2 separate regions of the Homo sapiens genome follow, and region 1 is linked to region 2. The links come from fine-mapping of genetic effects on plasma protein levels. A gene starts in region 2. The other region holds a variant in brackets. All regions are shown on one strand. Distances are between the middles of the regions.

Region 1 (3,026 bases), 61 kb after region 2:
AATACAAATTAGAAAACCAATAGATTTGGCCTAAACATGGTTCTATATGTTATAATAATATTTTACGATTAGACTCATTCTGTAAAGAAGAACGGAAATGAGAGGAGATCCCTTGTGTACAGGCTTTTATGGTCCTTTATTGGCTCATGTTACTTCTAAGTAACAGGAAGCTGTGCCTAAGGGATCCCCTCCTAGCTGCTCCCCCTAGAAGGCCTATGGCCTCCCTGGAGTCTCCTCAGTCCCCCAGTTCTGAGGGGGGTCCTGCCAGTTCTCTAATGAAGAATTCCACCCAAGGTCATTGGGCACCCCTTCCTCTTATCCAGCTACCCCAGCCTATACACCCTGCTGCCTGAGAAAGTACCAACCAGTACCACCAGGAGTAGGGCTCCATATCAGCTCCAAAAATCAAACCTGTGTCCATTGAGGGAGGTGCCTGATAGAAATGAGGAAACAGAGTACATGTGCCATTTTCTATGTGTGATTTAGTTTTATACAAGGAAAAATTTGGCCAGAGAATCCAGAAAAATTTATAAAAGAATTTGTTAAATAGACTATGTTTTTTAATTTAACACATCATGTCTTGCAAGTATTGTCATCTGCTTGCTGTGCTGTGGAAAAAAAGCAGAAGAAAAGGTGTGTGGTTAAGCCAGTGAATTATGACAAGGTGAGAGAAATAACTCAAAGACAAAATTCCCACTGTTTCAAGGTCATTTGTTTGAGACACTCAGGAAATATACCAATGCAGACCCAGACTCCTCAGAAGGGCAAGCTCTCCTGAGTATACATTTTACTACTCAATCTGCCCCTGACATTAGGAGGAAGCTACAAAAAGCAGCAATGGGACTTTAAACCTCCAAAGTCAACATTTAAACATGGCCTATAAAGTTTACAACAATAGGGCCAGGGCAAAAGAGGTGAAAAAAACAACAAAAAATAGCCCAAAAGTTCAATTGTTAACAGTTACTTTAAGCCCCCTGCCACCTCAAAGTTGCCCATCCCAAGAAAGTGTCACAAGATCAGCATCTGGGATGCCCAGACAAGAGCCCATATGTGTCTACCATAAGCAAAAGGGCCACTGGCAATGAGAATGTCCTAACTGTCCCTGGTGAGATAGGGAAAAAACTCCCTGTCAATACAGAGCTAACCTTCCATTAGCTACACTTAGTTGTCTTGCTCAAATAAGTTTACTGGGGGTCTTAGACCCTGACTCAATGGACAGTTTCCCACAGTGGTAGACAAGTGGCTGGCTGAACATTTTTCTTCAATATCTCCACTGCTGTATGAGCTCTCTGGCAGCCTGGGTACTCCAAGG[T/C]CTTTCCTTGAGCAATGCAGTTTGCCTTCTCCCTTCCTTATTTAATGCTATGGGATTTCCTTCCCTGCCTTTTCCTGTCTTCCATATCTACTGGGGCAAAAAAAATTTTGGCCTAATAGATGGTCCCAATTTTGTAAATAATTTGAATCCAGCTGTCTTATATAGGTCACTTCATTCATATAATATGTGTTGTGTCTAGCATGCTATCAAATTGCCTTATAAAAGAATGCTCATAAATTAAACAGATTAGATGATTGTAAACTTACTAGTTTTTAAAAAAATGTTGTATCTTCTACAATTTAACTTTAAGATTTTTACCTAAATAAACTATTAATATTCATAGGCTTAAAAATGATTACAATAGCTTTAAGTGGTGACTAGCTTTGTGTGGTTATTTTGGTTCTTGGTGGTAGTCTAGATAAAACTATTAAAAGTGAAATCTTAAATACGTCTAAATGCTGAGACCAGCTCAGTTGGGGAGACCCTAACCCAGCGGCGCTAGAGAAATTAAAGACACACACACACAGAAATATAGAGATGTGAAGTGGGAAATGAGGGGTTTCACAGCCTTCAGAGCTGAGAGCCTCGAACAGAGATTTACTCATGTATTTATTAACAGCAAGCCAGTCATTAGCATTGTTCCTATAGATATTAGATTAACTAAAAGTATCCCTTATGGGAAACGAAGGGATGGGCTGAAATAAAGGGATGAGTTGGGCTAGTTATCTGCAGCAGGAGCATGTCCTTAAGGCACAGATCGCTCATGCTATTGTTTGTGGTGTAAGAATGCCTTTAAGCAGTTTTCCGCCCTAGGCAGGCCAGGTGTTCCTTGCCCTCATTCTGGTAAACCCACAACCTTCCAGCATGGGTGTTATGGCCATCATGAATATGTCACAGTGCTGCAGAGATTTTGTTTATGGCCAGTTTTGGGGCCAGTTTATGGCCAGATTTTGGGGGGCCTGTTCCCAACATCTAAATATAATAGATACTTAAACAGTGAACTTTTTGTGTGGTTTAAAATCTTGAAATTGTGCAATGGTTCTCATCTATAAAATGTCAGTGTTTCATGGGCAGTGCAGGATTTCTTACATCCTTGGTTTATATAAAATATGACAAAAATTATATTCTTTATTGGGGAATAATAATAATAGTTTTTGTTTAATTTAAAAATTATTGAGAGGTTCAAAATATGAGGGAGCCAGTAAGTTAAAAAAATTATATAAAAAATTACAGATTAAAAGATTTTTGGCAAGTAAAAATATAAAGAATAATTTTGTATGAAGAGGGATCTTGTAAATTCTTGTCCTAAAATAAAATGACTCGTTATGTAAGAAAGAGATAGTATAAGACAAGTCAAAAAGTCCAAGCATATTGTATGGTCTGTGTAAGTCATGATAAGGTTTATGAAGGGGATTTATGTATGGAATTCTGGGTATAATTTAACTAGTTGTAATTAAAACAAAATCATTTAAAATAGACTTTCTGAAAAATGGTCTACATGCTAAAACCAAATTTTCATAAGATATTAATTTGCTAAATTATGGGAAATTTTACTTTTAATATTATAACATGGGGGCAGTACATCCAACTCAAATTCCAGAATTTCTTTTTTTTTTTCTTTGAGACAAGGTCTCACTCTGCAGCCTAGGCTGGAGTGCAGTGGCACGATCATAGCTCACTGCAGCCTTGACCTTTTGGGCTCAAGTGATCCCCC
Region 2 (2,500 bases):
TCACTGTGACAGAGTCCCCTGCACAGTCCTGGGACGGCTCCAGGTCGAAGTCCTGGAAGACGAGCCTCACAGCAAAGCCCTCTGGAGCCTTGATGTCCGTGCTGCTCTCTTGGCCTTTGCCATACGGCTCTGGGTACCCGGGGGATGTCAGCTGCTGGGGTAGCTCTTGGGCCAAGAGGACGGAGCCCCGGGTTGGGCAAGCCTGGAGGACTCCCCAGAGAAGCAGCCACCACCTGTGAGTTGGGGGGAGGGCAAGGTGGGGCCGCGCAGCTATGGCCGGAAGCCTGTGGGTGTGGGAGGAGCGGGGGAGCCGCGCTAGGACTCAGAGGCCTCGCGAGGCAGGGCTAGAAGCTGTGGCCTCACCCTTGAGGCCCGGGCACTTCCCGTCTCCTCCCTTGCTCCCCTTCCTCACCCCAATCCCTACAGCCTCCCGCGCAGCCTGAGCTCTAGGATTGTGGGTTTTCCATCCTCCGAAGACATCACCTTTGCTCATCTCCCAGGAGAGTCTCGTCCAAAGGAGGGGGGTGCTTTCTGCTTCAGCAGATCCCACCCCACCCTGGGATCCGAGGGAGCAATGGTGGGGCGAGTGAGGGTCTGCCGTAAATATCCCCCGACCACCCTCTGGGAAGGTGCTAGAGGCCACAGGCAAATTTCAGTCTCCCCATGGAATATCTGCTGTGCTGCTGCTGCTGCTGCTGCTGGTGTGTGTATGTGGGGGAGGTGTGTGTGTGTGTGTGTGTGTGGGGGGGGGGGGGATGTGTGTGTGGGGGGGGTAGGGTGGGGGGAGGGAGGGTTTGCGGCCACCCACCCTTTCTCTTCCCCTCCCGTCCTCTTCCCTCCTCCTCTGCCGGGGCCACACTCACATTGCGCCTGGACAGCCTTTGGAGTGAGGGCTTCTCCAGAGATATTTCCCCCACACTCTGGGTCCAGGCATCTGGAACTGGACATCTGGGACCTGCGAGAGAACTGGCCCAGGATAGGGAACAAAAGGTGAAGGCCGGTGGGGGAGGAGGAAGTTCCTGGAAATGTTAAGCAACTCCACAGTTCCCCTTCTCCAATTCTCCGGGCTGAGCGCCACCTGCCGTCTGACTCAGGAACAGCGGGCCCGCCGCAGCTTAGGGGAGAAACGTCCAAAAACCTCGCTGGCCCTCAGAGGTCAGGGTGGCAGGGCACTGACTCGACCCTTTTGTACTATTTAACATTAATTTTTGCCATGTGTGTAGGATGGCTCCTTGTGAGTTATGGCTGCTGCCTTCAATCAGCCATGTCTCTTCCTCCCCGACCTTTCCGTTCACGACATACCCGGGGAGCCTCCCTCTTGTAGAATTGAAGTTTGTGATCCTTGAACTTGAGCTTTCTCTTCCTTTCCCTCCTCCCCAAGCAGGGGTGGGGGACATGCGCTTAGGTGGTCTTTTGAATCCTATTCACAACCTCTGGAGGCTGCTTGTCCAGCATGGTCAGGGCTGGGGTCGAGCCCAGGTGTCCCTCAGTCCCTAGTCCCAGTCATCACTCAAGCCGTCACTCAAGCTTCTTTAGGCAGATACTAGAGCCCCTGCCTGCTCTCACCGCTCCCCGAGGAAGGACACTCACCCACAGCTTGGTAGGAGGCCAGAAGGCTCTTATGGAGATGGGTGGTCCCATCCTCAGAGAAGGCAGGTGTGTGGAAGGCCTTACGTTGTATGCACACACAAATGCATGTGCGCGCGCACACACACCTCTCAGAGAAGAATCTATTGCTTCCCCCATTTTGCATATAGTAATATGGAGGCAAGTTACAGACCCAAACAGGGTGTGCTCTGCATCTTTGGTTTTTCTAGGCTAGAGAGATTTAGGAGAGCCACAGTCTATGGCTACAAGGAGATGATAAGAGAGTGATGGCCAGGACAGATGCAATGTCTCAGGTACAGTCTTGAGATCAAGCCTACCTGTCTGCCACACCCCAACCCCAAACACAACTGGGGATGATCTCCCATACCCATCTTCGAGGAGTGGGCCTCTCTGACTAGGACTTCTTTCCTCCCCTGAGACCACTGAAACCTGCTCTCTCATAGAACTCTTAGGGTCACCTGGAGCACCTTGGGAGCCAGAGATGCAGCCAAAGAGTGAACAATGGTACCAATCCCAAGACCCATGTGTTAAGAAGAAACCAGCCAAGACTCAGATCAGGATTGGGGAGTCCACCCCTCGTTTCCCTTCAGAGCATTATTTCCTTGTTTGCTAAGAGGGGCAGGAACTGGAAAACTCAGGCTAGCCCATCTGAGAAGACTTTCCTGGAGATGAGCTGGAGGAGGGAGGAGTAAGGCCTTGGAAGGAAACTCCAGGACAGGTAGGGTGACCGACTGTTCTGATTTGCGTGGGACCGACGGGTTTCCCAGGACATGAGGCTTTCCGTTTTAAAATGAGGGAAGTTCTGGGCAAGCCAGGACTGGTGGTCACCCTAAATGGATAGGGGTTAAAGTGCTGGAGTGAGGCTGGGTGAGAAAGAGGACAGGGAGCCAAG

The links. PIP is the posterior inclusion probability: the model's chance that the variant is causal. Protein levels are from the aptamer-based SomaScan assay of Sun 2018.
Region 1: its variant is fine-mapped to the plasma level of the C1RL protein (Sun 2018, PIP 0.95).

Annotation. Positions count from the first base shown.
Region 1 is chr12:7,169,320-7,172,345 of GRCh38, forward strand. All of the region lies in intron 1 of LOC124902869 (a long non-coding RNA gene), which reads right to left. Among named protein-coding and RNA genes, the nearest start is that of PEX5, 19 kb to the right of the region's middle. The variant T/C (reference allele first, on the strand shown) is at 1,313.
Region 2 is chr12:7,108,247-7,110,746 of GRCh38, forward strand. It overlaps C1RL (complement C1r subcomponent like), which reads right to left and starts at 968. Exons shown (of 6, transcript NM_016546.4): 1 at 864-968; 2 at 5-233. The coding sequence starts at 934. It overlaps C1RL-AS1 (C1RL antisense RNA 1), which reads left to right and starts at 62. Exons shown (of 12, transcript NR_026947.1): 1 at 62-235; 2 at 427-701; 3 at 1,818-1,901; 4 at 2,052-2,326. RefSeq lists enhancers at 1-1,187, 20-189, 830-909.